Homo sapiens: one gene and its partners. The main gene of each other region encodes a partner of the protein of the gene in region 2 in a complex. Each region holds a gene or a part of one and is shown on either strand. Other genes may lie near its edges. The genes, in order: HCAR3, GNAI1, GPR88 and HCAR2. A codon is read from its position in the direction of its gene.

Region 1 (6,459 bases), on a different chromosome or scaffold from region 2:
CTTCTCCCAGCCTTCCCAGTAGCTGGGACTACAAGCGGCCGCCACCATGCCTGGCTAATTTTTCTTGTATTTTTAGTAGAAGTGGGGTTTCACCATTTTGTCCAGGCTGGTCTCAAACTCCTTACTTCAGGTGATCTGCCCGCCTTGGCTCCCCCAAAGTGCTGGGATTACAGGCATGAACCATTGCACCTGGCCTTGATTCCCTTTTTAATGCACAAATATGAAGAGCAATATTCACCAAACTCTAATAAAATGTAAGTGCTCTTGCAATCCTATCTGTACTATCCTTCCAAATTATTTTTAATCCCAGCTCTTTCTATCTTTGTTTAGACACAGGTGTAATTTCTGCTTAGTTGTTTCATGATGTAGCTCAGTGTCTGTGTCTCTTTCTTACTTTGCAGTGTGGAGTAGTTTTCTACCAGGACAAAGTTAACAACCCATAAAGGTCTCTGCTTAAGTAAGAAGTCCATTTCTGTGAACCATAACCCAGATATAGCAACGCCAGACTGTCTCCTATCAAAATTTATTGAAATGGTAGATTTTTGGTAAGTACAGAAACACAAGCGAAGGAACCAGGAGGAACGTGCACCCCTCTACCCGTGGGGCAGAGGCACGTTTCCCTTTTAATGGTAAAAGCAAACAGGTGGGAAACAGCTTTCTATCCTGAAGCCGTTTTAACTGTTCAACCCTTAGATTACTATAAACAAGAGAGGAATGGATTGCATTAGTCGCTGGTTGAAAGCAGCAATGCCATTTCCTTTCCCATAATAACACTGTTTAGCTCAGTCCCTTCTGGGGCTAATCCCCTATTACACCCACCGGAAACACAGATACTAACCAAAGCATGTGAGTCTCTTCCCTGAGTCCATTTCTGCTAAAGATTGTCTGAAAGATGAATTGGTCCACGGAAGCCAGGTGACCTACTGGCTTGTTTAATGATGCCTGGGCTTCCTCCAGGAACAACACAATTCCCTCCAATCTCAGCTCTCCTTATCCCTGCTAGAGCTCACAAGCAGGCTAGATATCACCCCAGGAGCTGAGCCCCCTCCAGTCTGAGGCAGATGTGGGAAGAAGGCCAACAAGTCACAAGTAGATCTCTGGCTCCAACTCTGCTCAGCAGAAACGCCTACAATTTGCCCATCTTCAGTCCTGCGAGCGTCAGAGATGAAGCAAGTTTCAGATGCCTAGAAGCTTTACTCTCTGTTCCTCCAGGATTCCTGCGGTCACACCTTGCAACCAGTCTCCCACTCATCTGCCACAGTTTCCCTAAATCAGATTCTCTGAATCTGGAAGTTCCAGGAAATCTTAGGCCGAGTCCAGTGACATTACTCGATGCAACAGCCCAACTGTTTCTCCAGAGATGCTGGTTCTTGGTGACAATGTCCCTTCTTGGAATGGTTATTTGAGGTTGGGCCCAGATAAGAGGGGCTCCATGGCTCACCGGAGTTGGCGATTAACGCCTCTGGAGCGCCTCTGGTTTTGTTGGGGTCCCCTGTGAGCTCGACGCTCGTGCTGCGGTTATTATCTGGCTCACCTGTTATCTTCCTCTGGAGGCAGCGGTTGATCAAAGTGGAGAAGAAGTTGGGAAAGGATGGGCTGGAGAAGTAGTACACCACGGGGTCCAGCATGCTGTTCATGTAGGTGAAGCTGAGAGTGATAAAGAACGCCAGGTCCACCGAGCGGTACACTTCACAATTCTGCGTGCCCGAAGTGTGCAGGAGCCAGAAGATGTGGATCCGCACAACCACGCTGGGAAGGAAGCAGATGACAAAGACGATGGCCACCACCATGATGAAGGTGATGGCTCTCTTGATCTTGGCATGCCGGTCCATTTGTCTCTGCCGCAGGCTCCAGATAATTCTGGCTGAGCAGAACAGGATGATGCCCAGGGGCAGGAAGAACTCCAGGAGGAACATAGCTTCGTGCCACCGGAAGGTATGGCAGATGCTGAAGCTGATGCACACATTTGCAGTGCCATTCTGGATCAGCAACTTCTTCTTCAGGAGGTGGACTGTTAGGCCAACAGTGATGCCCCACAGAAGGCAAGAGATGATGGCTGCTGTCCAATTGGAGATCTTGTTCAGGGCGTGGTGGGGATGGACCACCCGGAAATACCTGTCTACCGCCACCACCGTGAGGAATATGATGCTGCCCTGGCGGTTCATGGCAAACATGAAGAGCACCAGCCGGCAAGGGATGTCCCCAAACTTCCAGTCTGAACGCCGCACATAGTAGTCCATCACGAACGGCAGGCAGATGATCAGTAGAAAGTCAGCTACTGCCAGGTTGAACAGGAAAATCCGGCTGGATTTCCAGGACTTGAGGTGGAAACAGAAAATCCACAGGGCAAGGCCATTGCCCAGAAGCCCAAAGATAAACTCCAGCCCCAACACCGGCGGCAACACCTTGGCAATGAAGTCATCTCGGAACACACAGCAGTTCTTCTTGTCTATTTCCAGAAAGTGATCCTGCAGATGGTGCCGATTCATGAGTGCAGCTAGTGAGTCCGATGGAGCGCCTCGCCTAGTGAATGCTCCAGCAAAGTGGCGTGTGTCTGTATGGTGAACGTGTGGTTCCGTGCCTGCCTTTATGTCATGTCAGGGTGTTGAAATAGATGACTGAATGGTTATCAGGAAACTACGAAATCTCTAAAAAAAAAAAAAAAAAAGCCAGCAAGGCTCTTATGCAACCTGCTGTTTGCATAAACAAATAATAAAAATCCCCTGGGCATACAGGAACCCACCAAATGTCTTAAATGTAAAGGATAAGTTTAGGCAAGCTGACTGTCATTCGAAAATCAGTGAAACATGAAGGACATCCCTTTGGAAGGCTGGGTGCTTGTATGCCAACTGAGTACTCAACGTTGCAGAATTAATTCACCGTCATCTGCTTGGCTGACATAATTAACAAAACAACAACAATAGCAATAATAATTTTTGGTGCCAAACAGTGAGGTTTTCCAGAAACACTAAGAATTAGCATGAAAAATTAACAGGCATATGACATAAACAGTAGCAGGCATATGATTTCTTTTGGAAATGCTGAGAAGACAGTAGTTGCCTGTTTGATGAGGACAGACTGGTTGAATTTGACCACTTTTCCTATGCTACCTTTCTGTACAAACATGGAGTGCTTTTCCATATCAGAACTCTGCCATTCATCTCCAGTTAGGAAAAAAAAAAAAGCCTGCTGGAGAGTGTAATATTTCATAAGATGTTTGAAAACTTGAGCCCAGTTTCAGTGGCATGTTAAAATAAGTTGGGTTTTTTGTTTGTTTATATTAGATTTTGATATGCTTCTGTGCTCAAGTGATTTAAGTATGTGATTTCTTTTTTTTGCAAACTTTGAATTAATGAGAAAAGGATTCATGAGGCTAGTTGTAAGCTGTAGCAAATCGGGTGTACTTTGTGCTACAAATTTGTTTTTCTGTGTCGCTCTGCATGAAGAGGGGTACCTTAGGATAGAGCATGGGGTTAGTACCCCATAAGCTGTCTGTTCTAGACAGCCCAGGAAACTGGTCAGTAAGAAAGTTGGTTGCAGGTCCCTGAAACAAACAAAAAACTGGATGAGGTCTCTAACTTGTTTTATGTCCTTGGGACCTTAGGATGTGATTTTTTTTTTTTGAGACAGAGTCTCACTCTGTCACCCAGGCTGGAGAACGGTGGAACAATCTCAGCTCACTGCAACCTCCGCCTCCCAGGTTCAAGCAATTCTTCTGCCTCAGCCTCCTGAGTATCTGGGACTACAGGCGTGCGCCACCACGCCCAGCTAATTTTTTGTATTTTTAGTAAAGACGAGGTTTCACTGTGTTGGCCAGGCTGGTCTCGAACTCCTGACCTTGTGATCCACCCGCCTCGGTCTCCCAAAGTGCTGTGATTACAGGCGTGAGCCACTGCGCCTGGCCGTGATTTTTTTTTTTTAATGAACTTTATTTTTTAGGGCAGTTTTAGATTCACAGCAAAATTGAGCAGAAAGTACGGACGGTCCTGTGCACTCTGTCTCCACACACGCAAAACCTCCCCCACTAAGTATGTGATATTTTTAAAGCCCCCATTTTTGTAAAATTAAACTTAGAGTGACAGGACCTAAGAGGACATGGAACCCTGCCTTGTAGCGGGACACCATTGCACACATTGTTTCTCTGCTTGTCAGTGCGATTGGGTGTCATCCTATAGAATGTTTTCTCCCTTTAATATTTTGGTCTTATGAATTCTTCCATGCAGGAGACTTCTAAACTATGTTGCTTCTACTTTGAGTTATATAATGTAAATTTCTTCCTTTTTTTTTTTTTTTCTTTTGAGATGGAGTTTCACTCTATCGCCCAGGCTGGAGTGCAGTGGCTCACTGCAACCTCTGCCTCCTGGGTTCCAGTCATTCTCCTGCCTCAGCCTCCCAAGTAGCTGAGACTACAGGTGCCCGCCACCGTGCCTGGCTAATTTTTGTATTTTTTAATAGAGATGGATTTCACCATTTTGGCCAGGCTGGTCTTGAACTCCTGACTTCAAGTGATCCTCCCGCCTTGGCATCCCAAAGTGCTGGGCTTACAGGTGTGAACCATCACTGCCGGCCATAAGATGTCAATTTATTTCTTTAGCTGCAAACGCAGGTTCAATAATAGGAGCTTATAGAGTCTTCAAGTAAACTAGAGTTAGGATGACCTAATATTAGGTTCCCATAGAACTACAAGTACTTGATGATGATCCAGGTGAGATGAAGACAATGATGAAGATGATGGTGGCACCTACATTATAGAGAGCTTCCCATGTGCTGGAACCCATACTCAGTGCTTTTTTTTTTTTGAGACAAAGTCTCGCTCTCGCCTCACTGCAAGCCCCGCCTCCTGGGTTCACGCCATGCTGCCTCAGCCTCCCGAGTAGCTGGGACTACAGGCACCCGCCACCACGCCTAGCTAATTTTTTGTATTTTTAGTAGAGATGGGGTTTCACCATGTTAGCCAGGAGCTCAGTGCTTTTATAGTTGCTTGTTTCACTCTGACTGTAGCCCATGTGGAAGGTATTATTATTGATTCTGATTTCAAATGAGGAAAGTGAAGCTCAGAGAGGATAAAATATTCAGGGCCACCCAGCTCATAAGAGCAGAGCATGGCCGGGCGCGGTGGCTCACGCCTGTAATCCCAACACTTTGGGAGGCCGAGACGGGAGGATCACAAGGTCAGGAGATCCAGACCATCTTGGCCAATATGGTGAAACCCCGTCTCTACTAAAGTATACAAAAATTAGCTGGGCGTGGTGGCGGGCGCCTGTAATCCCAGCCACTTGGGAGGCTGAGGCAGGAGAATCGCTTGAACCAGGGAGTTGGAGGTTGCAGTGAACCAAGATTGTGCCACTGCACTGCAGCCTGGGTGACAGAGCGAGACTCCACCAAACAAACAAACAAACAAACAAAAAAACCCGGGCACAGTGGCTCACGCCTGTAATCCCAGCACTTTGGGAGGCTGAGGTGGGCGGATCACGAGGTCAGGAGTTTGATACCAGCCTGGTCAACATGGTGAAATCAGATCTCTACTAAAAATACAAAATTTAGCTGGGTGTGGTGGCGCGTGCCTGTAATCCCAGCTACTCAGTAGCGGAGGCAGGAGAACTGCTTGAACTGGGACCCAGGAGGCGGAGGTTGCGGTGAGCTGAGATGACGCCATTGCACTACAGCCTGGGCAACAAGAGTGAAACTCTGTTTAGAAAAAAAAAAAAAAAAAACAGAGGCCAGGCGCCGTGGCTCACGCCTGTAATCCAAGCACTTTGGGAGGCTGAGGCGGGCGGATCACGAGGTCAGGAGATCGAGACCATCCTGGCTAACACGGTGAAACCCTGTCTCTACTAAAAATACAAAAACAAAAAATTAGCCAGGCGTCGTGGCGGGCACCTGTAGTCCCAGCTACTTGGGAGGCTGAGGCAGGGGAATGGCATGAACCAGGGAGGCGGAGCTTGCAGTGAGCCTAGATCGTGCCAATGCACTCCAGCCTGGGTGACAGAGTGAGATCCTGTCTCAAAACTAAAAGAAAAAAAACAGCTGAGCTTGGATTTGAATCTGGCAGTGACTTCAAAGCCTGTGTCCCTAACCATCATGCTCACTGCCTCTTACTATGTTATTGCCTTGTCTGTAAGGTTGAAGATCTTGCTCAGGGCATGGTGGGGATGGAGGTCATGCTGTTCAGGCTTTAGTGAAATAATTGGTATTTGTTTCTTGTTCTTGCTGCCTGTGAATACCATGCTTCCTTCTTGGATGTATGTGGACACTTGTCAACAACATTCATAAAGTAATCCTAAGGGCCTTTATTAACTAAGAGTCAGAGAAGTCAGCAGTATTTATTTCTAGAAGCTGAAATTTGCAAGGGACTCTCCCTTTCTAAGTTTCACAATTTCATAATATTTTGTGTGTGTGTTTTTTTTTAAACAATAGTCATGGATAAAATTAGAAAAAAACAACCACAGGCCAGGCCTG
Region 2 (7,877 bases):
CTGGGCAAAAGGGTAGACTAGAACGGGGATAAGACAGAGGAGAGTGCTGGGCCAGCAGGGACAGCCAGGATTTCCAGAGAGGAGAGAGGTAGGGAAAAGCAAAAGACCAAAGCTAGAAAAGACAGCCAAAAGAATTCAGTCACTTAAAGATTTCTAAAAATCATTCTGAAATATTTCCAATGGTACCAGTACTGGTTTAGAGAAATAAGAATTCTGGCCGGGCAAGGTGGCTCACGCCTGTAATCCCAGAACTTCGGGAGGCTGAGGCGGGCGGATCACCTGAGGTCAGGAATTGGAGACCAGCGTGGCCAACATGGTGAAACCCGGTCTCTACTAAAAATACAAAATTAGCCGAGCATGGTGGCACGCACCTGTAGTCCCGGGTACTCGGGAGGCTGAGGCTGGAGAATCGCTTGAACCCAGGAGGTGAAGGTTGCAGTGAGCCGAGATCGGGCCACTGCACTCCAGCCTGGGCGACTGCGCAAGACTCCGTCTCAAAAAAAAAAAAAAAAAAAAAGAAAAGAAAAGAAAAAAAAAAAAAGAAAAAAGAAAAAGAAATAAGAATTCCATAATTTCTTCTGAAAATGAGGCCTCTGCTACATCTTTCTCTGAACTCACTTATGATGACTGTCAAGATTCAACTTCTGGTTCTGTATTATACATTCAGTTATATTTAAGTCTTAATCTAGAACAGTGGTCCTTAACTAACGCTGTATTTTGCCCCCAGAGGACTTCTAGCAATATGTGGAAACACTTTTGGAGCTCACAGGTTAGGGGGCTGCTACTAGCATCCAATGAGCGGAGGCCAAAGATGCTGCTGAACATCCTACAATGCACAAAAACAACCTGGAGAACAAAGAATTACCCAGCCCCAAATGCCAACCGTGCTAAGATCAAGACACACTGATCTCTTCTGAACATAAGCAAAAGCCTACTCCTGGGACCTTTATTCTAGTCCATCCCTAACAGTCACCTAATTAAAGGACAAAACACCACCACCAGATGATTCATTTTTCAATTGCTTTAAACATGGTGGATGGCTGGCTCAAACTAAGAGTCACACAGAAATACACTGAAACAACGTATCACACCAGGAGAGCAAAAACTGCAAGAAAAAAACTTCTTAATCCTCTTATTTCATATCTATCTCACATTCAATTCACAAGAGAAGTACATACACTAACCTCATCAAAACACAGTATTTCTTATTAATGTAAAAACTTAGGCAAACAACATTAACTGAGAAAGATTTATGTTGGGGGCGACAGGGTGAAAAAAGCCACCCAGGTCTTTAAAATGCAAAGTTATTTCACAGTTTACTTGCAAAATGACTCAGATCATTATTACTTTTAGTCATGCCAACTTTGCTGCTCCCAAGCCTACTAGTAATGGAGAAAAAAAACCCACCATTTTTTCTGCAGTCATTAAACCAATGAAACAGAAGCTTACTGAAAACAGGTTTGTGCAACATTTCTTTTTTATTATAACTGGTATAAAAATACAAGCAGTCCTTGGAAATGCAAATGAAGATTCTGAGAAATTTTTCATCTATCTAAATACCTAGAGTGTGAGAAGAAAACATGCAAACAAAAGAAAACCCTAACTCACGAATCTTAACCTGTAAAGATTTTCCTAATGCTTCCCTCAGTGAAAACCCTGGTTTACTCTTTATTTTCTTCCCCGTCAAACATTTGGAAAAGACCTCCACGTAGCGTTTCACGAACAGAACAGTGCTAAGAACAAATAAAAGCCTTGCGTGTACCTGGCAAATCTCATTCATCAGAAACGGTGGCAGCGGAGACAGAACCCTGTTGTCTGGCGTGACCCTCTCGCTCTTTCACAGCAGTTTTCACCACTCGAGTATCTGCCTTGCCTACTACTAAAGCAAAGCTTCCCAACCCCACTTGGGTGGCTTCCATGCCCCCACAGCAAGAAAAATCAAGCATCCAGCGCAGCCTTTTCTCAGCGCAGGGGGAATGTAATCAGCGCTCCTTGACCACTTAAGGAGTCGCCATAGGAAGTTAACAGGAAAGACGCTTCAGCCCCATCTCAGAGGCCCCACAAAAGGTGCACTGATTTCACCAAACGTGGCACTCTGGGCATGAGAAAACCACAGTCGAAACACAACCTACACCGCACACGAAGAAGGGTTTTCCGGGAGGGGGTTGGTGGCGCGGGGGGGGGGGTGTTTTCATTTTCTAGCCGCGAATGCCCCTTCATCTTTACAAGGCTGAGCTAAACTTCAAAGCAAAGGGTTTCCACGCGACCCGCCGCCTCGGACTCGCGCCTGGGCTCTTTGCTGGGTCGCACGAAAGCATCCGAGTGAAGTGACGCGCCCGCCCCGCCGCGGGGAGTCCTCGCCCGCCGGGGCGGAGAGAGACCAGACACCGGGAGAGGGGGACCCGCCTTGCCTCCGCACCGCCGGACCCAGCTCCCGCTCAGAAGCCTCCTCGGGCGCTTCCTCCCCCTTCCCTCCGGGTTTCCAAACGCCGAGGGCCGCGCAGCGCCGCACCCGGTCCCCCGCCGACCCCCGGGCCCCGACCCGGCCGCCCTTACCGAGCAGCAGCAGCTTGACCTCGCGCGCCGCCTTCTCGCCGTCCTCACGGAGGTTGCGGTCGATCATCTTACTCCGCTCCACCGCCGCCTTGTCCTCGGCGCTCAGCGTGCAGCCCATGGTGCCGAAAGCGAGAGCCTGCCGCCGCTCCCTCCGCGCCCGAGTGCGGGCTCCAAGCACAGGGGAATCCTTTCTCTCTCCTAGCGGGCGTTCGAACGCCTCCCGACGGGGGCCACGCCGCCCCCACCACTTCCTAAGCGGAGTCGAGGGAGACGCTGTCCGCAAAGGGGCAGACAGCAACGGGCGGCTGTTCCTCACGACCAGGCTCTGCTTCCCGGCCCGGCTCAGCGCCCCCAAGTCCCGGGTTTGGGGTTTTGAATCTCTGGGTACAGTGGCCGCTGCACTCCCGCCGGTGGCCGCGCCGCAGCCTCGCCAAGCCCAGCCGAGCTCGGCCTCCGCGCGCCGCCGCGGCCCCGCCCCTGCCCGCCCCTCCCACCACCCCGCGACCACTCCCAGAGCGCGCGCCCGCGCACGTGCCCTCGGACAGCGCCCCCCGGCCCCGGACCCCGGCGCCGCGCCACCACTGAGGGCCTGGCGCCCCCTGGCAGCGTCCCCGGGGCGCGCCACTGCCCCGCGGGGCTGTGGCCTTCTGCCCTGGGCGGGAGTGGGGTAATTTCTTTCCGTTTACTCACACGGAGGGAGCTGTGCGTACCTGCCCCTTCGGGTGGGGGTGGGAGAGCTGCCAAAGTTGCCGAAAAAAGCCAGTTCTGGGCGTTTGAGCATGCCCAGCGCCGGCAGCCACGCAAGGTTTTTCAAAATGCAAATCCCTGTCGGCTGGTTTCAGGGCCGTGAGAAACAGGGAACTGGGGAAGGAATGGAGCCTGGTGAAACCAGAGATGGGCACAGTGGAGAACAGGAAAGTCGGGGGAGGGGACTAGAAAAGGGCACCAAGGTCACTTTCTTCCTACCTTTTGCTTCTCTTTCCTTCTTCCTATCCCTCCCTCTTTCCTTGCACTCTCACGTTTTTCACAAGAACGCATTTTGAAGGATTTCCTCGTAACCTAAAAAAAATGGAAGACAAATAATCAAAAGTATTTTTAAATGACAAGAGCAATAAAACACACCCACACAAGCCAATCTCCACATCGTAGCAGATCTCCTCTAGAGCAGCACATAAGCTTCCATGCCAAATTTGGAGCCAATATTTATGACCGTGTTTGTAACTCCTGTACCATTGGGCATGCCATTTTTACAGGCCTTAGCTTCTTTGCCCATAAAATGAGGAGTGGATCTATGGTGCTATCTCCCCATCCTTCCAGCTGTAACAATCGGCGGAGATAAGTTCCTGTGGCCCGCGGGAGGCATTGCTACTCAGCACCCAATGAATGAGCAGAGGCTTAAGATCTCATCTCTCCCTGTCAGTTGCACTACACCTTTCCCCTACAGATATCACAGGAAGCGTTAACTGATTAGAAAATGGGGCTGGTAGCAAGGAAAAACATGGTCCTTGATGTACTAAAAATTGGAACATGCTCCCTGGTTTTCATCTGGAAATCTTATTCTCTAAAAATCATTTGGGAAAACTGGGCTTGAGTTTTCCAAGGTGAGGCTGAACTGATGATACAAGCAGAATAGCTTTCGAGTAGGTCACTGAGACCACGCTTGTGAGCTAGCAGAGACTGAGTTGCCTCCTTATGGGACATGTCCTTTCCTGTTCTCCTATGGGAGTCACACCACCTGCTGGGCTGATGAGATGCAATTTCAAGATCTGCCTCAACTATAATCTTTTGTAATATAACAACAAAAAGGAACAATCTTTAAATGTACTTAGTCACCTTCTACACTGTAATTCTAGGCACTCTAAATGCTAATGTGTATCAGAACTCTGGAATTAAACTTAAGGAAATCAAATTTCAACACACTGTGTATTAGCCATTCTTAATTATCTTTTATGGTGAGTCTTTCCTATTAAGTTCGGACCAGAGTGTGGAACCAACAGTTTCAGCAAAAGAAGAAGCAGTGCTGGCTGAATATTGGTAGAAATGACTACAAAACTTGTGTTTCGGAGAAATGAAGTATGTGTAACAGAAGTTTGTCAAATAGGTAACATTACTTCCATCCTTTGAAGTTAGTCAAATAGGTGAGTTAAAATGTGATACATAAACGAATAAGAACAGCAAATTAGATTTATATGTAGCACAATTCCTAAGAGAATGCAGAGTAATGAACTGATCAGTATGGGGGGAAATTCTAAGATAAGAAAGTTTTGAAAAAACGTTTGAAGGAAATGATAACAGGATATTGGTGGGGAGTTTAAAGAAGTATGTATTAGTTCAGGCTGCCCTAAAAATACCATAGCCTGAGTGGCTGAAACAATAGGAATATATTTCTCACCGTTCTGGAAGCTGGTAAACCTAAGATTAAGGTGCCAGTTTATTCAGTTCCTCAGTGAGGGTTCTGCTGCTGCCTTGCAGATGGCCTCTTTCTTGCTGCGTCCTCACATGGCAGAGCAAGAGAGAGAGAGCTTGAAAGCAGTCTGGTCTCTCCTCTTCTTATAAAGGCCCTGTCTTAAAGGCCCCACTCTCAAGACCTCATCCAAATCTAATTACCTCCCAAAGGTTCCATCTCCAAATACCATCGTATTGTGGGTTAGGGCTTTGGAGACATTCAGGCCATAATAGGGTATATTTTGTTTGAGGGGAATAACCAGCTAAACAGTTAATATGCAAGATACGTGAAAGAGAAAACAATGGTTTTATAACTGAAAGTTGTTTGGTTGTGAAGAATGATAGGATGTGTGGGACAAAGTTGGTGTGAAGAATGATGGGATGTATGGGACAAAGTTGGAAGACAGCTTTAAATGCTAAGGTGAAGGGTTGGACTTGATACAGTGGGTACAAAGTGCTCCTTACATTCTTTCCTGAGTTGGGTACTAGATGTTAAAAAGCAAAGAAATAAAAAAACCCTCTTACCACTACATGTAAAACAAATGGGTACCAGCAAGTGAATTGTGTTAGTAATCCAAATGTGAGGTGGTGAGAGTCACTCAAGCTAATAACTTATGTAATTATGATGTTGCAAAATATGATTCAACCTTGTCAAGGAGATGAAGCAGATATTATTTATTTATCTCTTTTATACAGAGTGAAATTGAAATTATAGAGGTTAAAGCACTCTACTTCAGAATACTGTTTTTTCTTTTCAACATCATGTTTGTTTTTTAACAGCTTTTTTTTTTTTTTCCCTCGGGTTCAAGCTTTTTTGAGATATAAGTCATATGCCATAGAATTTGCCTATTTAAAGTGTACACTTCAGTGGCTTTCAGTATATTCACAGAGTTGTGCAACCATGATTACAATCAATTGTAGAATATTTTCATCACCACAAAAAGAAGCTCTGCATTCCTTAGCCATCATCTCCAATCCTTTATCTTTCCCCAGATCTAGACAACCGCTAATCTAATTTCTGTCTCTTTAGATTTGCCTATTCTGACATTTTATATAAAAGGAATCATATAGTGTACAGTATTTTGTGACTGGCTGCCTTCAGTTAGCATAAAGTTTTCAGGGTTCATCCATGTAGCATCCACCAGTACTTTATTTCTTCTTATTTCTGAATAATACTGAACATTATATGTTAAGAGAGTTAGAGACATATGTTAAAAGACAAATTAGAACACATTCAGCTGAGAGCCTCAGGTTTTCAAAGTAGCTACAAACTATGTCATAAGGAATAATTGAAGAAATTGGGGGATATTTAATGTAGGAATGAGAAGATATGACTGAAGAGATGTCATAAATCAAAAGGAATAGACTTTTTTAGCTGGCTTCAAGGTGGTGTTGAAACCTGTAGCAAACAAAATTTTGCCTTGCTATGTTGTGAATGGGAGACTTACCATATGGAATTAAGAAGTAAACATGGAGAATGCAGAAGCTGAATAAGGAGACTTTTTCAAGAATCTTAACCATGGAGAGGGGTTGACACATGGGATGGTAGTTGGAGAGGTAGGTTTGGAATTTGTTTCATTTCACTTGTAACTCTTCTCAAATATTATTCAACTGAGAAAAAAGGATTGCTATTGATATGGTTTCACTGTGATCCCAACTAAATCTCAGGTTAAATTGTAATAATCCCCACATGTCAAGGGTGGGACCAGGTGGAGATAATTGAATCATGAGGTCAAATTCCCCCATACTGTTCTCCTGGTAGTGAATAAGTCTCATGAGAGCCAATGGTTTTATAAGTAGGAGTTTTCCTGCATAAGCTTTCTTGCCTGCTGCCATGTAAGACGTGACTTTGCTCCTCCTTTGCCTTCCACCATGATTGTGAGGCCTCCCTAGCCATGCTGAACTGTGAGTCAATTAAACCTCTTTCCTTTATAAATTGCCCAGTCTTGGGTATGTCTTTATTAGCAGCATAAGAACAGACTGATACAGTTATGGGACAAAGGAAAAAATATGGCCACCCTACTTTCTGACCACCACTTCAGACCTTTTCATCTCACCCTCTGTTACGTTATTACCATCAATTCTCCAGTCCCACAGAGACCTTCCATCTACCGACCACATGCCTTTTCTCTTTCTGTCGTGTGCTGCATGTGCTAATGTCTCTCCTTATGCAACTTATATCCCATCTTCCATCAGGACAATTATTCCTTTGCAATATCCTCAAAACACTCCCACCATTGTATTCAACAGGAAAAACTTCAAATCTGGTTAAATCTACTCTGCCTCTGTATGACTATACCTGTTCAGCTGAGCTTGAACAGAGGAAAACACGGTAATCAACAACTCCACATTTCTGTTTGCTCAGGCCAAATACTTGGAGTCATCCTAGATTCTTTCCTTTCCTGCAAGCCTTAGTTATTCAATCTGTTAGGAAATCCTACTAACTTTGTCTTCAAATATAACCAGAACTTGGCCAAATATCGCCATCTTTACTGATAGACACTGGAGATATTTATCAAATATTAAATAACCTGCTTTCTGCTCCCTCTACTTTTACCTTAATCGCTTACTGTTCCCACCTAGCAGCCAGATGCATCCTTTTAAAATGTCAGGGAGAACTATCCATTCACTTTCCATCTCACTTAGAGGAAAATCTCATCTAAAATCCTTATGATGGCATACAAGGACTTACCCTTTTTTTTAACCATGTGCCTCCCCATAGTATTTTCTGCCATTCTCCTTGTTGTCTGGTTCAGCCTCCCTGACCTCCAGACTGTTTGAACTTGCCAAACACACTCCATCATTGGCCTTGGCATTTATGCTCCCCCTGCCTGGAACACTCTTGAGCCAGGTATCTGCTTGACTCACTCCCTTAT
Region 3 (6,917 bases), on a different chromosome or scaffold from region 2:
GAGCATGCAATAGCAGCTAATATTAGCTATGCAGTCATGGTATTATTAGTGTTTAATTATATCATGTGCATTGAGATATTTTAAATGTTAAAGAGAAAACAGAAGGACTTATTCTTCTTAGCAACCATTATAGTACAGAATGTTCAAAGCTGCAATCACATTCATAAGGCAAATAAATTGGTTACAAAATGAGGGTAGCAACAAGTGTGCATGCTATAGAAAATGTGAAACGGTACCTAAAATAGATAATCACCTTATTTGTTTTCAAAATTCCAGTGCTGGCTCTGACCATCAATTATCAAACTGGAAAATTTTCACTATAACACTCAACGCCAATTTTCAGTCTTAAGAGTGCGAAAAAAAAGGAGCATAAAATAATTTTTTTTCTCACTGGCTAAGATTCTACCTCATTTGAGAAAGACTTTATTAAAAACCCTTTTAAGAATAAAGGGCTTGAGGTCTTAATGGCAACTCATACTGGTGGGCACACCTAGGGCTTCACTGCCCCAGGGTAATATACAAAAACTAAATGGTAAGAGAAGCATCATCAAAGACAGGTTACTTTCTAAAATACTTTCTACATATTGTTTTCCTTCTTCAATGTTATTTCCTTTGGTTCATGCACACTCAAGGCGCTTCATATATAAGACGATGAAAGTGGAAAGGGTTATACATTATGAAAGCTCTTTTTCAAAAACAAACTGTGTGGAAATAAATTAACCGGTTATTTTAAAACGCCAGTTTGCAAGTTCTTCAAGTCTCTGGTGTTTTGACTTTAGGATTCCTCTAAAACACAGAAACAAAGGGTAAAAATCAGGTGGCCGTCCAAAATGACTTCGGGCGCCCCACTTAAAGAGACGCCTTGGTTCAGGTAGCCCGCTGGGGTCGAAGGCCCCATTTTCCCCCGATCTATCGGGCTTCGCGGCGGAAGTCTTCGTTCAGGCAGGGGATGCCCTAGGAGGGAAGGAGGCGACGGTGCCCAAGGACGTCGGAAGCCGGGGATCTCCGCTTCCCTCGGGCCCCGGCTAGGTTACCAGTGCTGGCCCGCGGCGCGGGTGCCCAGTTGCGCCTGGGACACTGCGGGCACGGCTGTGGCGGCAACGGCAGCGGCCGCCGCGTCGCCGACGCCCGGCAGGACTGAGCGCACGGAGCGGCGGAACTCCTCGTTCCTCCACGTGTAGAGCAGCGGATTGAGCGCGGACAGGGCGCAGCACAGGAGCCAGCTGGCCGCCTGCACTCCCCAGGGCACCGGCAGCGAGAAGCCGCTGGCCAGGCTCACCCACACCAGTGGCTGCGTGGCCAGCAGGAAGACGCAGCAGAGCAGCAGCACCGACAGGCCGCTGAGACGCCGCTGTGCCCGCCGCGGGTGCAGCGCGGGCGGCAGGGGCTGGGCCTGCGCCGGGTGCGCGGCGCCACCGGGGCCCGGCGCGTGCTGGGCGCCCGGGAAGGCGGCGGCGGCGGCGGCGCAGCCGGGCAACTGGTGCAGCAGGTGGAAGTTGAGCACGCTGACCCGCTTGACGCTGACACGCACGCGGCGCACGATGCCCAGGTAGCAGTGCAGCAGCAGAGCTGTCTGCGCCAGCAGCGCCGCGGCGGCCAGCAGCGCCGGGTAGTGGACTCGCGGTGGCGCGGCGCCGGGCCGCGGTGCCCAGGGCGGGAGCAGCAGCACGAGGCCCAGGGCGAGCGCCCAGGACAGCGCCAGCATGCCCGCCGTGTGGCGCCTCTGGTACAGCGCCTGGTAGGTGGCGGGCGCCCGGGTGATGAGCAGGTAGCGGTTCAGGGCCACGAGGCAGTGGGAGAGGAGGGACACCGTGAGTCCGAGGCCCAGCAGCCCACCCCGTAGCAGGCGGTAGCTGCCCCCAGCGCCGTCCCAGTCTGCGGGGGGCTCCGCAGAGCCGGTGGGCAGGAGCCCGAGCACCGCCTCCTGCGGCATCCAGAGGGCGCAGACGCTGAGGTCGGCGGCGCAGCCGTTCACGATGAAGGCGTTGCTGGTGGTCTGCAGCTTTCGGAAGGACGACACGAGATAGATGACCATGCCGTTGGCCAGCGTGCCCCCGATGGCCAGGCCCGAATACAGGAGTGACACCGGGATGCGCCGGCCCGCCCACGACTCCTCTTCCTCGCAGAGCAGCAGCAGCGAGCCACCGGTGGTGGAGGAGGTGGATGTGGAGGAGGAGTTGGTCATTCTGGCCAACTCTTCACACCTCCCTCGCTAGCGTCGGCTTCTGGCAGCGCGGTCCATCCTGACACTGTCCTGCCTGCCAGAAGGGCAAAGACATCCCTTCAGCCCTCTGCCACTGACACAAAAGGCTGAAGCAGAATAATGGGCTGGGGGAGGGGGAGAAAGGGAGCTCGAGGAGGAGGACGGGGGTGGCAGATGACAGGTGCCTGCCTCGGAAATGTCTCCAGAGCCAGGGGAAAGGCCACTTTGCATTGGATTCAGCAGGTATCGGGGAAGCCCTAGGACAGAGCAATACCTAAAACAGTCTCCTCTTCTCCCCCAACACACACACACACACACAGAGAGAGAGAGAGAGAGAGAGAGAGAGAGAGAGAGAGAGATATGTTGCCAGCTGGAGGACCTAGTTCCAGGAGAAAGCAGAGATATCCCAGCTGGGGAAAATCCCATGGGAAAGAGGTGAAGGTTACCTTGCGTTTAGGCTGGTCCTTAGCCGGTGTCTCAGGGGGAGGGATGCCGGGAAATACCTCCTCAGCAACAGCATCAGTGGTCCAGAAATCAACAGGAGAAACTCAGCTGGGATCAGTGCCAGGAGCAAGTGCCCGCTTCTCCCAAGCAGCATCCACACACATGGTCCTGGGCAGGAACTAGCAGCTGCAGGGAGACTTCTCAGCTGGTATCAGGGCTGGAGAAAGTAAAGTGGCGGGCTGCAAGCCCAGGCGGGTGGGCAGGCAGGCAGCAGCAGCAAGAATGCTTGGCTGCAAAAGCAGAAGCTGAGCTCAAGAGGAGAGCACCCTGTGCTCAGAAGCAGGAGTGGTGGCTGATGTGGTGAACCCACTCGAAGCTCTCTCCTGCTTAGTTATACATCATCCAGGGAAAAGACAGCCTTTCCACGCTTGGCATGAATTATTCAATAGCTTCCAACTTGTAAAAGGAAGAAAAATATCTTGCTCAGAAAGTCCTGTCGTTAACAAGTTTCTCTGTCTTTTCTCTCTCCCAATCACCTTATTTTTCATCCTGTTTCATTTTTCTTTCCGTCCTTTTTTTCCCTCCCTTCAATATTAGAATAAAATTTAATATACCCTAGAGTATTTCATCTCAGTCTGATGCATTTTGTGGGCAAGATTTTTCTGTGAGATAAATATATTCCCAGTACCCAGGACTGATCTCTTTATTCCCACATTTTTTAACGAGAATTACTTTATGCACTACTTGAAATTCATTTTTCTTTGGTAAAGTGGAACATAGACAATTATCCACAGAAAATCTCCATTCCTCAATTTAAATCGTACTTTCAGTGTTTTCTCATCAACAAACTCCTTTCCGGAGTTTGTTTTGTGTTTTAGTAATGAAATGGTTAGAGGGTAAAAATGAAATGGGCAAAAGATTTAAAGCAGATGTCAGTGGTACATCTAGACAATGGAATATTATTCAGTGCTAAAAAGAAATGAGCTGTCCAGCCATGAAAAGACATGAAGGAACCTTAAGTGTGTATCACTAAGTGACAGAAGCCAACTGGAAAGGACTACATACTGTATGCTACCAACTATGACATTCTTGAGAAGGCAAAACTATGGAGACAGTTAAAAAGACCAGTGGTTGCCCGAGTTAGGGGGAAAGGAGGAATGAATAGATGATCACGGAAGATTCTTAGGACAGTGGAACTACTCTGTATGATACCATAATAGTGGATCTGTGTACTTATAAATTTGCCCAAAGTGGCAGAATGTGAAACATCAGTGTAAGCCATGGACTTTGGGGAATGATGTGTCAACGTACATTCAATTGTAACAGACGAACCACTCTGGTGGGGGATTTTGATAATGGGAGAGGCTATGTATGCGAGGGGCAGGGAGTACATGGGAAATCTCTGTATCTTTCACTCAAATTTGCCATGAATCTAAAATTGCTCTAAAAAAATAAAGTCAATTTTAAAAAAATGTGTGTCAGGGGGAAAGCAAGAAACCTGAATAATCCACAGTGTGAACAAAGATGACTTTTCACTTCAGAACTTTTTGTCTTGTCTGTCTTGGAGATTTGCAGTCTGATGTTGGCATCTTCTTTGGTGCAAGTGTTCATTTATCCATTCCATGTGGGAATTTTTTCAGAAAAGGAGTTCTCTCAATTATTCACTGGAAAAGTCATGTATTTGAAAATGTAACTCAATATGGGAATATGGTAACATGGCATAATAGAAAAAAATGTTAGGTGGGGTTGCAGCACACCCAGATACTAAGCCGAGCATCCATCATGTAGCCTTGCGATGGATTATTTTCATCTTGTCAAATAAGTTCACAGTCAGTCACTTCAAAGGCCCTTTCTGTTAAAACTTTCTGTGAATCCCTATTCATGAATTTAGCATTTCTTCTCTCTAATTATGACACATGGCATATACCTCTTCTATCTAACATGCATTGCAGTTGTAGTTCTGGGTCATATGTCCCTAAGAGCAATGTTTCAGGAGAGAGGTCAAAACACAGCTTCTCTGCTTTTCTTTTTCTATTTCAAAATCAATATGGTTAGTTGATGACTTCAAGAACTCTGATGAGGATTAAGGATAAGCATGACTTGATAGATTTGGTCCAGCTAAGCTATATCTGAATGAAATTGGTTGGGGCAGGGGCAGGGGCCGGAGGGGGAAGTGAAAGAAAAGAACCAGTGACTTGCTATTCAGAGGGTTGAAGGTTTCGATATCAAGTTTACTGATGTAAATGAGATGAGTATTTGTCATCATCTTTTTGCCTATTGCCATTTGTCCTTATTGAGGTTTTGAGTGCATTAAGCACAGCAAGCCTGCATTTCTCCTTTCTAGTTATGACACATGGCGTATACCTCTTCTCTGTAACATGCATTGTAGTTCTGGCCCATATGTCCAGGAGTCTTTTCCACTCTGTCCCTAAGAGCAATGTTTCAGGAGAAAGGAGACTCTCCTAATCATTCATAGTTAAAACTTGCCATTGAAGTAAAGTTTTTTCTCTCACATTAACATAGTCCTAAAGGACTCTCTGATAGAATGTGGTGGGAGGGTATTCAAATTCTGGATCCCTGGTCCCAGCTGCCACTTTGTGTTGCCTTTGAGACGAGCAGCATTCCTGCTGAGGGACTCCAGTGCCTGGCAGTCACACACACTTCCTCCAAGACCATGCCTCCCTTAGCGCTGGCCTGACAGGGGCCAAATTTTTGTTTGTTTCTGGATTTGGTTTTCCTTTTGTTTTAAGTTAATGAACTTACATAATATAGGGTGGGAATTTTTTCTATCTTATTTCCAGCACCAGGTCAGTGCCTGGGACATAGTAGAAACTTAATCAATACTTACTGAATTAATAAGTGAATGGCAGTGTAAATGATTTCATTTATGTTTTCTCCACGGTGAAACAGTAATTCACTTTTATGAGCATCTCTTTCCTCCCACCTTCAGCAGGAACTTGCCCCATCAGTCATCTGCTTTCTGCTGTCTCTTGTCAGTCTCTCTGCTCTCCACTGCTTGCTCCCCTTCAGACTTACAAAAATGCTGATTTCACCACAACCTCATAAAACTCCCCTGGAACTTCACCTCCTTCTCATGGTGCCTACACACAGCTCACTTCCCCTTCCTGATGGAAGTGCTCATTTTCTCCTTCTACTTCTGATTTTACCATTGAATACCCACCCACACGGCCCTTAGCTCTCCCTGCTCCACAGAAACAGCTTTGGCCAAGGTTAACAGTAGCCTCTCAGTAGCAAATCGTGACTCCTAAATCCTTGCCCTCTACTTTGACTCTGTGAAGAACACCCTCCTCCTCAGTGCCATTTCCCTCCAGGTTTCCCTTTGCTTCTGTTCCTCTGTCTGCTCCCTTCCAGACTCAGTCTCTGGCTCCCCAGTGTCATGGCTCCTTTAAGATAGTGTTCCTGGCTTCTCTTCTTGGTTCTCTTCTCACCCTACTCTCTCTCCCTAATTGATCTCATCTGATTCCTGCCTTCCACTCTCGCCTATGGGTCACCCACAGATTCTTTCCCACCAAGCTTACTTCTTTCCAGAGTTGCAGACGTGTTGGAACTCTCCATTCGGCTGGCCTCTCTCCCTCCTCATCCCACTCATTCTCCTATGGTCACTGATTTGGTTAATAGTCCCCATTGTTACCCTAGTGTTTCTAATAATTCACTATCAAATATGGTGTTTGTTATAGTTTTCTGATATATTGTTTATAAGTTAGAGACATTTCTATCTATTTCTAGTATGACTTTTATATGAAGTGAATTTTTTTTTAGCTGTTGATGTAGTAGGTTACATTTGATATATTTTTAAAAGTTGAATCATCTTTGCATTCCTCTGATAAACCCTGTTTGGTTACAATATATTATCCTTTTAAAGATAGACTGTAGGATTCTATTTGGTAGTATTTTATTTAAGAGTTTTGCATCATAAGTAAAGCCCACTTGGTTTATTTTTCTTGTGCCATCTTGTCCTTTCTTAGTGTCAAGGTTAAGATAAAATTCCCCCCAGGAGTTATTTCACCACTGCTACATCCACATCCACATTCCAGCCCACAGAGATGGAGAAAGATGAAGGGAGGGCAGCCAGCTTCCTTTTTAAGATTTCAGGAGAATCATAAACATCATTATTTTCAATGCCGTCGAGTACATACCATATGTGCCAAGCCATGCTTTGAGTATTTTTTATCTGTTGTTACATTTATTCCTCATGCCAGGGTGACAAGGTACCCAGTCTCCCCCACCCCCCCCACCTAAATTTGCAGGG
Region 4 (6,517 bases), on a different chromosome or scaffold from region 2:
TCCCCCAGCCTTCCCAGTAGCTGGGACTACAAGCGGCCGCCACCATGCCTGGCTAATTTTTCTTGTATTTTTAGTAGAAGTGGGGTTTCGCCATGTTGTCCAGGCTGGTCTCAAACTCCTGACCTCAGGGTGATCTGCCCACCTCGGTCCCCTCAAAGTGCTGGGATTACAGGCATGAACCATTGCACCTGGCCTTGATTCCCTGTTTAATGCACAAATACTAAGAGCAATATTCACCAAACTCTAATAAAATGTAAGTGCTCTTGCGATCCTATCTGTACTATCCTTCCAAATTATTTTTAATCCCAGCTCTTTCTATCTTTGTTTAGACACAGGTGTAATTTCTGCTTAGTTGTTTCATGATGTAGCTCAGTGTCTGTGTCTCTTTCTTACTTTGCAGTGTGGAGTAGTTTTCTACCAGGACAGAGTTAACAACCCATAAAGGTCTCTGCTTAAGTAAGAAGTCCATTTCTGTGAACCATAACCCAGATATAGCAACGCCAGACTGTCTCCTATCAAAATTTATTGAAATGGTAGATTTTTGGTAAGTACAGAAACACAAGCGAAGGAACCAGGAGGAACGTGCACCCCTCTAACTGTGGGGCAGAGGCACATTTCCCTTTTAATGTTAAAAGCAAACAGAGGTGGGAAACAGCTTTCTATCCTGAAGCCGTTTTAACTGCCCAACCCTTAGATTACTATAAACAAGAGAGGAATGGATTGCATTAGTCGCTGGTTGAAAGCAGCAATGCCATTTCCTTTCCCATAATAACACTGTTTAGCTCAGTCCCTTCTGGGGCTAATCCCCTATTACACCCACCGGAAACACAGATATTAACCAAAGCGTGTGAGTCTCTTCCCTGAGTCCATTTCTGCTAAAGCTTGTCTGAAAGATGAATTGGTCCACGGAAGCCAGGTGACCTACTGGCTTGTTTAATGATGCCTGGGCTCCCTCCAGGAGCAACACAATTCCCTCCAATCTCAGCTCTCCTTATCCCTGCTAGAGCTCACAAGCAGGCTAGATATCACCCCAGGAGCTGAGCCCCCTCCAGTCTGAGGCAGATGTGGGAAGAAGGCCAACAAGTCACAAGTAGATCTCTGGCTCCAACTCTGCTCAGCAGAAATGCCTACAATTTGCCCATCTTCAGTCCTGCGAGCGTCAGAGATGAAGCAAAAGTTTCAGATGCCTAGAAGCTTTACTCTCTATTCCTCCAGGATTCCTGCGGTCACACCTTGCAACCAGTCTCCCACTCATCTGCCACCGTTTCCCTAAATCGCATTCTCTGAATCTGGAAGTTCCAGGAAACCTTAGGCCGAGTCCAGTGACATTACTCGATGCAACAGCCCAACTGTTTCTCCAGAGATCCTGGTTCTTGGTGACAATGTCCCTTCTTGGCATGGTTATTTAAGGAGAGGTTGGGCCCAGATAAGAGGGGCTCCATGGCTCACCGGAGTTGGCCATTAACGCCTCTGGAGCGCCTCTGGTTTTGTTGGGGTCCCCTGTGAGCTCGACGCTCGTGCTGCGGTTATTATCTGGCTCACCTGTCATCTTCCTCTGGAGGCAGCGGTTGATCAAAGTGGAGAAGAAGTTGGGAAAGGATGGGCTGGAGAAGTAGTACACCACGGGGTCCAGCATGCTGTTCATGTAGGTGAAGCTGAGAGTGATAAAGAACGCCAGGTCCACCGAGCGGTACACTTCACAATTCTGCGTGCCCGAAGTGTGCAGGAGCCAGAAGATGCGGATCCGCACAACCACGCTGGGAAGGAAGCAGATGACAAAGACGATGGCCACCACCATGATGAAGGTGATGGCTCTCTTGATCTTGGCATGCCGGTCCATTTGTCTCTGCCGCAGGCTCCAGATAATTCTGGCTGAGCAGAACAGGATGATGCCCAGGGGCAGGAAGAACTCCAGGAGGAACATGGCTTCGTGCCACTGGAAGGTATGGCAGATGCTGAAGCTGCTGCACAAATTTGCACCGCCATTCTGGATCGGCATCTTCTTCTTCAGGAGGTGGACTGTCAGGCCAATAGTGATGCCCCACAGAAGGCAAGAGATGATGGCTGCTGTCCGATTGGAGATCTTGTTCAGGGCGTGGTGGGGATGGACCACCCGGAAATACCTGTCTACCGCCACCACCGTGAGGAAGATGATGCTGCCCTGGCGGTTCATAGCCAACATGAAGAGCATCAGCCGGCAAGGGATGTCCCCAAACTTCCAGTCCCAACGCCTCACATAGTTGTCCATCAGGAAGGGCAGGCAGATGATCAGTAGAAAGTCAGCCACTGCCAGGTTGAACAGGAAAATCCGGCTGGATTTCCAGGACTTGAGGTGGAAACAGAAAATCCACAGGGCAAGGCCATTGCCCAGAAGCCCGAAGATAAACTCCAGCCCCAACACCGGCGGCAACACCTTGACAATGAAGTCATCTCGGAACACACAGCAGTTCTTCTTGTCTATTTCCAGAAAGTGATCCTGCAGATGGTGCCGATTCATGAGTGCGGCTAGTGAGTCCGATGGAGCGCCTCGCCTAGTGAATGCTCCAGCAAGGAGGTGTGTGTCTGTGTGGTGAACGTGTGGTTCCACGCCTGCCTTTATGTCATGTCAGGGTGTTGAAATAGATGACTGAATGGTTACCAGGAAACTACGAAATCTCTAAAAAAAAAAAAAAAAAAAAAAGCCAGCAAGGCTCTTATGCAACCTGCTGTTTGCATAAACAAGTAATAAGAATCCCCTGGGCAGACGGGAACCCACAAAATGTCTTAAATGTAAAGGATAAGTTTAGGCAAGCCGACTGTCATTCGAAAATCAGTGAAACATGAAGGACATCCCTTTGGAAGGCTGGGTGCTTGTATGCCAACTGAGTACTCAACGTTGCAGAATTAATTCACCGTCATCTGCTTGGCTGACATAATTAACAAAACAACAACAATAGCAATAACAATTTTTGGTGCCAAACAGTGAGGTTTTCCAGAAACACTAAGAATTAGCATGAAAAATTAACAGGCATATGACATAAACAGTAGCAGACATATGATTTCTTTTGGAAATGCTGAGAAGACAGTAGTTGCCTGTTTGATGAGGACAGACTGGTTGAATTTGACCACTTTTCCTATGCTACCTTTCTGTACAAACATGGAGTGCTTTTCCATATCAGAACTCTGCCATTCATCTCCAGTTAGGAAAAAAAAAATAGCCTGCTGGAGAGTGTAATATTTCATAAGACATTTGAAAACTTGAGCCCAGTTTCAGTGGCATGTTAACATAAGTTGGGTTTTTTGTTTGTTTATATTAGATTTTGATATGCTTCTGTGCTCAAGTGATTTATTTTTAAGTATGTGATTTCTTTTTTTTGCAAACTTTGAATTAATGAGAAAAAGGATTCATGAGGCTAGTCGTAAGCTGTAGCAAATCGGGTGTACTTTGTGCTACAAATTTGTTTTTCTGTGTCGCTCTGCATGAAGAGGGGTACCTTAGGATAGAGCATGGGGTTAGTACCCCATAAGCTGTCTGTTCTAGACAGCCCAGGAAACTGGTCAGTAAGAAAGTTGGTTGCAGGTCCCTGAAACAAACAAAAAACTGGATGAGGTCTCTAACTTGTTTTATGTCCTTGGGACCTTAGGATGTGATTTTTTTTTTTTGAGACAGAGTCTCACTCTGTCACCCAGGCTGGAGAACGGTGGAACAATCTCAGCTCACTGCAACCTCCGCCTCCCAGGTTCAAGCAATTCTTCTGCCTCAGCCTCCTGAGTATCTGGGACTACAGGCGTGCGCCACCACGCCCAGCTAATTTTTTGTATTTTTAGTAAAGACGAGGTTTCACTGTGTTGGCCAGGCTGGTCTCAAACTCCTGACCTTGTGATCCGTCTGCCTCGGCCTCCCAAAGTGCTGGGATTACAGGCGTGAGCCACCGCGCCTGGCCGTGATTTTTTTTAATGAACTTTATTTTTTGGGGCAGTGTTAGATTCACAGCAAAATGGAGCAGAAAGTACGGACGGTCCTGTGCACTCTGTCTCCACACACGCAAAACCTCCCCCACTAAGTATGTGATATTTTCAAAGCCCCCATTTTTGTAAAATTAAACTTAGAGTGACAGGACCTAAGAGGACATGGAACCCCGCCTTGTAGCGGGACACCATTGCACACATTGTTTCTCTGCTTGTCAGTGCGATTGGGTGTCATCCTATAGAATGTTTTCTCCCTTTAATATTTTGGTCTTATGAATTCTTCCATGCAGGAGGTTTCTAAATTGTGTTCCTTCTACTTTGAGTTATAAAATGTAAATTTCTTCCTTTTTTTTTTTTTTTCTGTTTTTTCTTTTGAGATGGAGTTTCGCTCTGTCGCCCAGGCTGGAGTGCAGTGGCATGATCTTGGCTCACTGCAACCTCTGCCTCCCGGGTTCATGCCATTCTCCTGCCTCAGCCTCCCAAGTAGCTGAGACTACAGGTGCAAGCCACCATGCCTGGCTAATTTTTGTATTTTTAGTAGAGATGGATTTCACCATTTTGGCCAGGCTGGTCTTGAACTCCTGACTTCAAGTGATCCTCCCGCCTTGGCATCCCAAAATGCTGGGATTGCAGGTGTGAACCATCGCTGCCACCATAAGATGTCAATTTATTTCTTTAGCTGCAAACGCAGGTTCAATAATAGGAGCTTATAGACTCTTCACAGTAAACTAGAGTCAGGATGACCTAATATTAGATTCCCATAGAACTACAAGTACTTGATGATGATCCAGGTGAGATGAAGACGATGATGAAGAAGATGATGGTGGCACCTACATTATAGAGAGCTTCCCATGTGCTGGAACCCATACTCAGTGCTTTTTTTTTTTTGAGACAAAGTCTCGCTCTTGCCTCACTGCAAGCTCCGCCTCCCGGGTTCACGCCATGCTGCCTCAGCCTCCCGAGTAGCTGGGACTACAGGCACCCACCACCATGCCCAGCTAATTTTTTATATTTTTAGTAGAGACGGGATTTCACCGTGTTAGCCAGGAGCTCAGTGCTTTTATAGTTGCTTGTTTCACCCTGACTGTAGCCCATGTGGAAGGTATTATTACTGATTCTGATTTCAAAATGAGGAAAGTGAAGCTCAGAGAGGATAAAATATTCAGGGCCACCCAGCTCATAAGAGCAGAGCATGGCCGGGCATGGTGGCTCACGCCTGTAATCCCAACACTTTGGGAGGCCGAGACGGGAGGATCACAAGGTCAGGAGATCCAGACCATCTTGGCCAATATGGTGAAACCCCGTCTCTACTAAAATTTACAAAAATTAGCTGGGTGTGGTGGCGGGCGCCTATAATCCCAACTACTTGGGAGGCTGAGGCAGGAGAATCGCTTGAACCAGGGAGTTGGAGGTTGCAGAGAACCGAGATTGTGCCACTGCACTGCAGCCTGGGTGACAGAGTGAGACTCCACCAAAAAAAAAAAAAAAAAAAAAAAAAGCCGGGCACGGTGGCTCACGCCTGTAATCCCAGCACTTTTGGAGGCTGAGGTGGGTGGATCACGAGGTCAGGAGTTTGATACCAGCCTGGTCAACATGGTGAAACCCCATCTCTACTAAAATACAAAATTTAGCTGGGTGTGGTGGCACATGCCTGTAATCCCAGATACTCAGGAGGCTGAGGCAGGAGAACTGCTTGAACTGGGACCCAGGAGGCGGAGGTTGCGGTGAGCCGAGATCACACCATTGCACTACAGCCTGGGCAACAAGAGGGAAACTCTGTCTCAAAAAAAAAAAAACAACAACAAACACAGGCGTGGTGGTTCATGCCTATAATCCCAGCACTTTGGGAGACCAAGGCAGGAGGATTGCTTGAGCCCAGGAGTTCAAGACTAGTCTAGGCAATAAAGTGAGACTTTGTCTATGGAAAAAAAAAAAAAAAGAAGAAGAAGCCTTTGTAGAATTGATCTTAAGCTCTGAGGGATCCAGGTGAATAGCTCCAAGAATCAGTCAGACATGGGTCACTAGCAGAGAGAGTTGGGTCAAAGGTTTTTGGACAAACATATTGGGATAGACAAGAATGAGTGAATTTCATTTTATTTTACTTTATTTTATTTGGTACTGCTCCTTGTGGATCAGGGCTAACTCATAGGCAATGCACCTATAGTCAGCCAGGAAGGAGCAAGTTTAAATACACTGTCCCATATATTATTAATCAGTTTCCTAGTCCTGGGACTAGATCAGTTCAGTTAAACAGCTGTTTCCCATATCAGGAGGTGGCATTGCACACGGGCTAGGCCTCTATACATGATGAAGACAAACAGATTTTTAATACGAGGCATTTCTATGGAAATATAAGAAAAACAAAAGTTAATGTTGGGCACAATTTATCCAGATGTGAAACTCAAAATACCTTTAGTTATAGAGCAGGAAGGCAGTGGTAATCTGACATGTTTTTGCCACCTATATTAAAAGAATAAGCTTCAGCTTACAGGGCCTCAGGAAAAAAGGTAGTAGCAATTTTATTGAGTCCAAGTCAGAAAAGTGGAAGAAAAATGTGAAAGCATTAGTT

The links.
Region 1: the proteins of GNAI1 (region 2) and HCAR3 are in contact, whole or in part, in a cryo-EM structure (PDB 8JEI), measured with the Homo sapiens proteins. Residues at the interface, in NP_002060.4 of Homo sapiens: Glu28 (codon at 2,593), Ala31 (codon at 2,584), Arg32 (codon at 2,581), Leu194, Asp315, Phe336, Thr340, Asp341, Ile343, Ile344, Lys345, Asn347, Leu348, Asp350, Cys351, Gly352, Leu353, Phe354; in NP_006009.2 of Homo sapiens: Lys60 (codon at 2,312), Ser62 (codon at 2,306), Arg63 (codon at 2,303), Leu66 (codon at 2,294), Asp124 (codon at 2,120), Arg125 (codon at 2,117), Arg128 (codon at 2,108), Val129 (codon at 2,105), Pro132 (codon at 2,096), His133 (codon at 2,093), Asn137 (codon at 2,081), Lys138 (codon at 2,078), Ser140 (codon at 2,072), Leu215 (codon at 1,847), Arg218 (codon at 1,838), Met220 (codon at 1,832), His223 (codon at 1,823), Lys225 (codon at 1,817), Ile226 (codon at 1,814), Ala229 (codon at 1,805), Phe232 (codon at 1,796), Ile233 (codon at 1,793), Ser298 (codon at 1,598), Pro299 (codon at 1,595).
Region 3: the proteins of GNAI1 (region 2) and GPR88 are in contact, whole or in part, in a cryo-EM structure (PDB 7EJX), measured with the Homo sapiens proteins. Residues at the interface, in NP_002060.4 of Homo sapiens: Arg24 (codon at 2,605), Glu28 (codon at 2,593), Ala31 (codon at 2,584), Arg32 (codon at 2,581), Tyr320, Asp337, Ala338, Thr340, Asp341, Ile344, Asn347, Leu348, Lys349, Asp350, Cys351, Gly352, Leu353, Phe354; in NP_071332.2 of Homo sapiens: Ser66 (codon at 1,990), Arg138 (codon at 1,774), Leu141 (codon at 1,765), Ile142 (codon at 1,762), Pro146 (codon at 1,750), Ala147 (codon at 1,747), Gln150 (codon at 1,738), Gln154 (codon at 1,726), Ile215 (codon at 1,543), Arg218 (codon at 1,534), Val219 (codon at 1,531), Ser222 (codon at 1,522), Val223 (codon at 1,519), Arg225 (codon at 1,513), Val226 (codon at 1,510), Ser285 (codon at 1,333), Val286 (codon at 1,330), Tyr336 (codon at 1,180), Arg339 (codon at 1,171), Asn340 (codon at 1,168).
Region 4: the proteins of GNAI1 (region 2) and HCAR2 are in contact, whole or in part, in a cryo-EM structure (PDB 9IQT), measured with the Homo sapiens proteins. Residues at the interface, in NP_002060.4 of Homo sapiens: Ala31 (codon at 2,584), Arg32 (codon at 2,581), Leu194, Asp315, Thr316, Glu318, Phe336, Asp337, Thr340, Asp341, Ile343, Ile344, Lys345, Asn347, Leu348, Lys349, Asp350, Cys351, Gly352, Leu353; in NP_808219.1 of Homo sapiens: Lys60 (codon at 2,320), Ser62 (codon at 2,314), Arg63 (codon at 2,311), Leu66 (codon at 2,302), Asp124 (codon at 2,128), Arg125 (codon at 2,125), Arg128 (codon at 2,116), Val129 (codon at 2,113), Pro132 (codon at 2,104), His133 (codon at 2,101), Ala135 (codon at 2,095), Asn137 (codon at 2,089), Lys138 (codon at 2,086), Leu215 (codon at 1,855), Arg218 (codon at 1,846), Met220 (codon at 1,840), Arg222 (codon at 1,834), His223 (codon at 1,831), Ala224 (codon at 1,828), Lys225 (codon at 1,825), Ile226 (codon at 1,822), Ala229 (codon at 1,813), Ile233 (codon at 1,801), Ser298 (codon at 1,606), Pro299 (codon at 1,603), Ser300 (codon at 1,600).

Annotation. Positions count from the first base shown.
Region 1 is NC_000012.12:122,714,249-122,720,707, forward strand, and holds HCAR3 (hydroxycarboxylic acid receptor 3), read right to left. Parts: upstream 2,564-6,459; 5' UTR 2,490-2,563; coding exon 1,326-2,489; 3' UTR 508-1,325; downstream 1-507. UniProt on the Homo sapiens protein: Receptor for 3-OH-octanoid acid mediates a negative feedback regulation of adipocyte lipolysis to counteract prolipolytic influences under conditions of physiological or pathological increases in beta-oxidation rates.
Region 2 is NC_000007.14:80,129,958-80,137,834, reverse strand, and holds the start of GNAI1 (guanine nucleotide-binding protein G(i) subunit alpha-1), read right to left. Parts: upstream 3,005-7,877; 5' UTR 2,675-3,004; coding exon 2,557-2,674; intron 2,052-2,556; exon of another isoform or gene 1,763-2,051; intron 1-1,762. UniProt on the Homo sapiens protein: Guanine nucleotide-binding proteins (G proteins) function as transducers downstream of G protein-coupled receptors (GPCRs) in numerous signaling cascades.
Region 3 is NC_000001.11:100,534,235-100,541,151, reverse strand, and holds the start of GPR88 (G protein-coupled receptor 88), read right to left. Parts: upstream 3,014-6,917; 5' UTR 2,650-3,013; intron 2,259-2,649; 5' UTR 2,186-2,258; coding exon 1,031-2,185; 3' UTR 1-1,030. UniProt on the Homo sapiens protein: Orphan G protein-coupled receptor implicated in a large repertoire of behavioral responses that engage motor activities, spatial learning, and emotional processing. May play a role in the regulation of cognitive and motor function.
Region 4 is NC_000012.12:122,700,787-122,707,303, forward strand, and holds HCAR2 (hydroxycarboxylic acid receptor 2), read right to left. Parts: upstream 2,572-6,517; 5' UTR 2,498-2,571; coding exon 1,406-2,497; 3' UTR 507-1,405; downstream 1-506. UniProt on the Homo sapiens protein: Acts as a high affinity receptor for both nicotinic acid (also known as niacin) and (D)-beta-hydroxybutyrate and mediates increased adiponectin secretion and decreased lipolysis through G(i)-protein-mediated inhibition of adenylyl cyclase.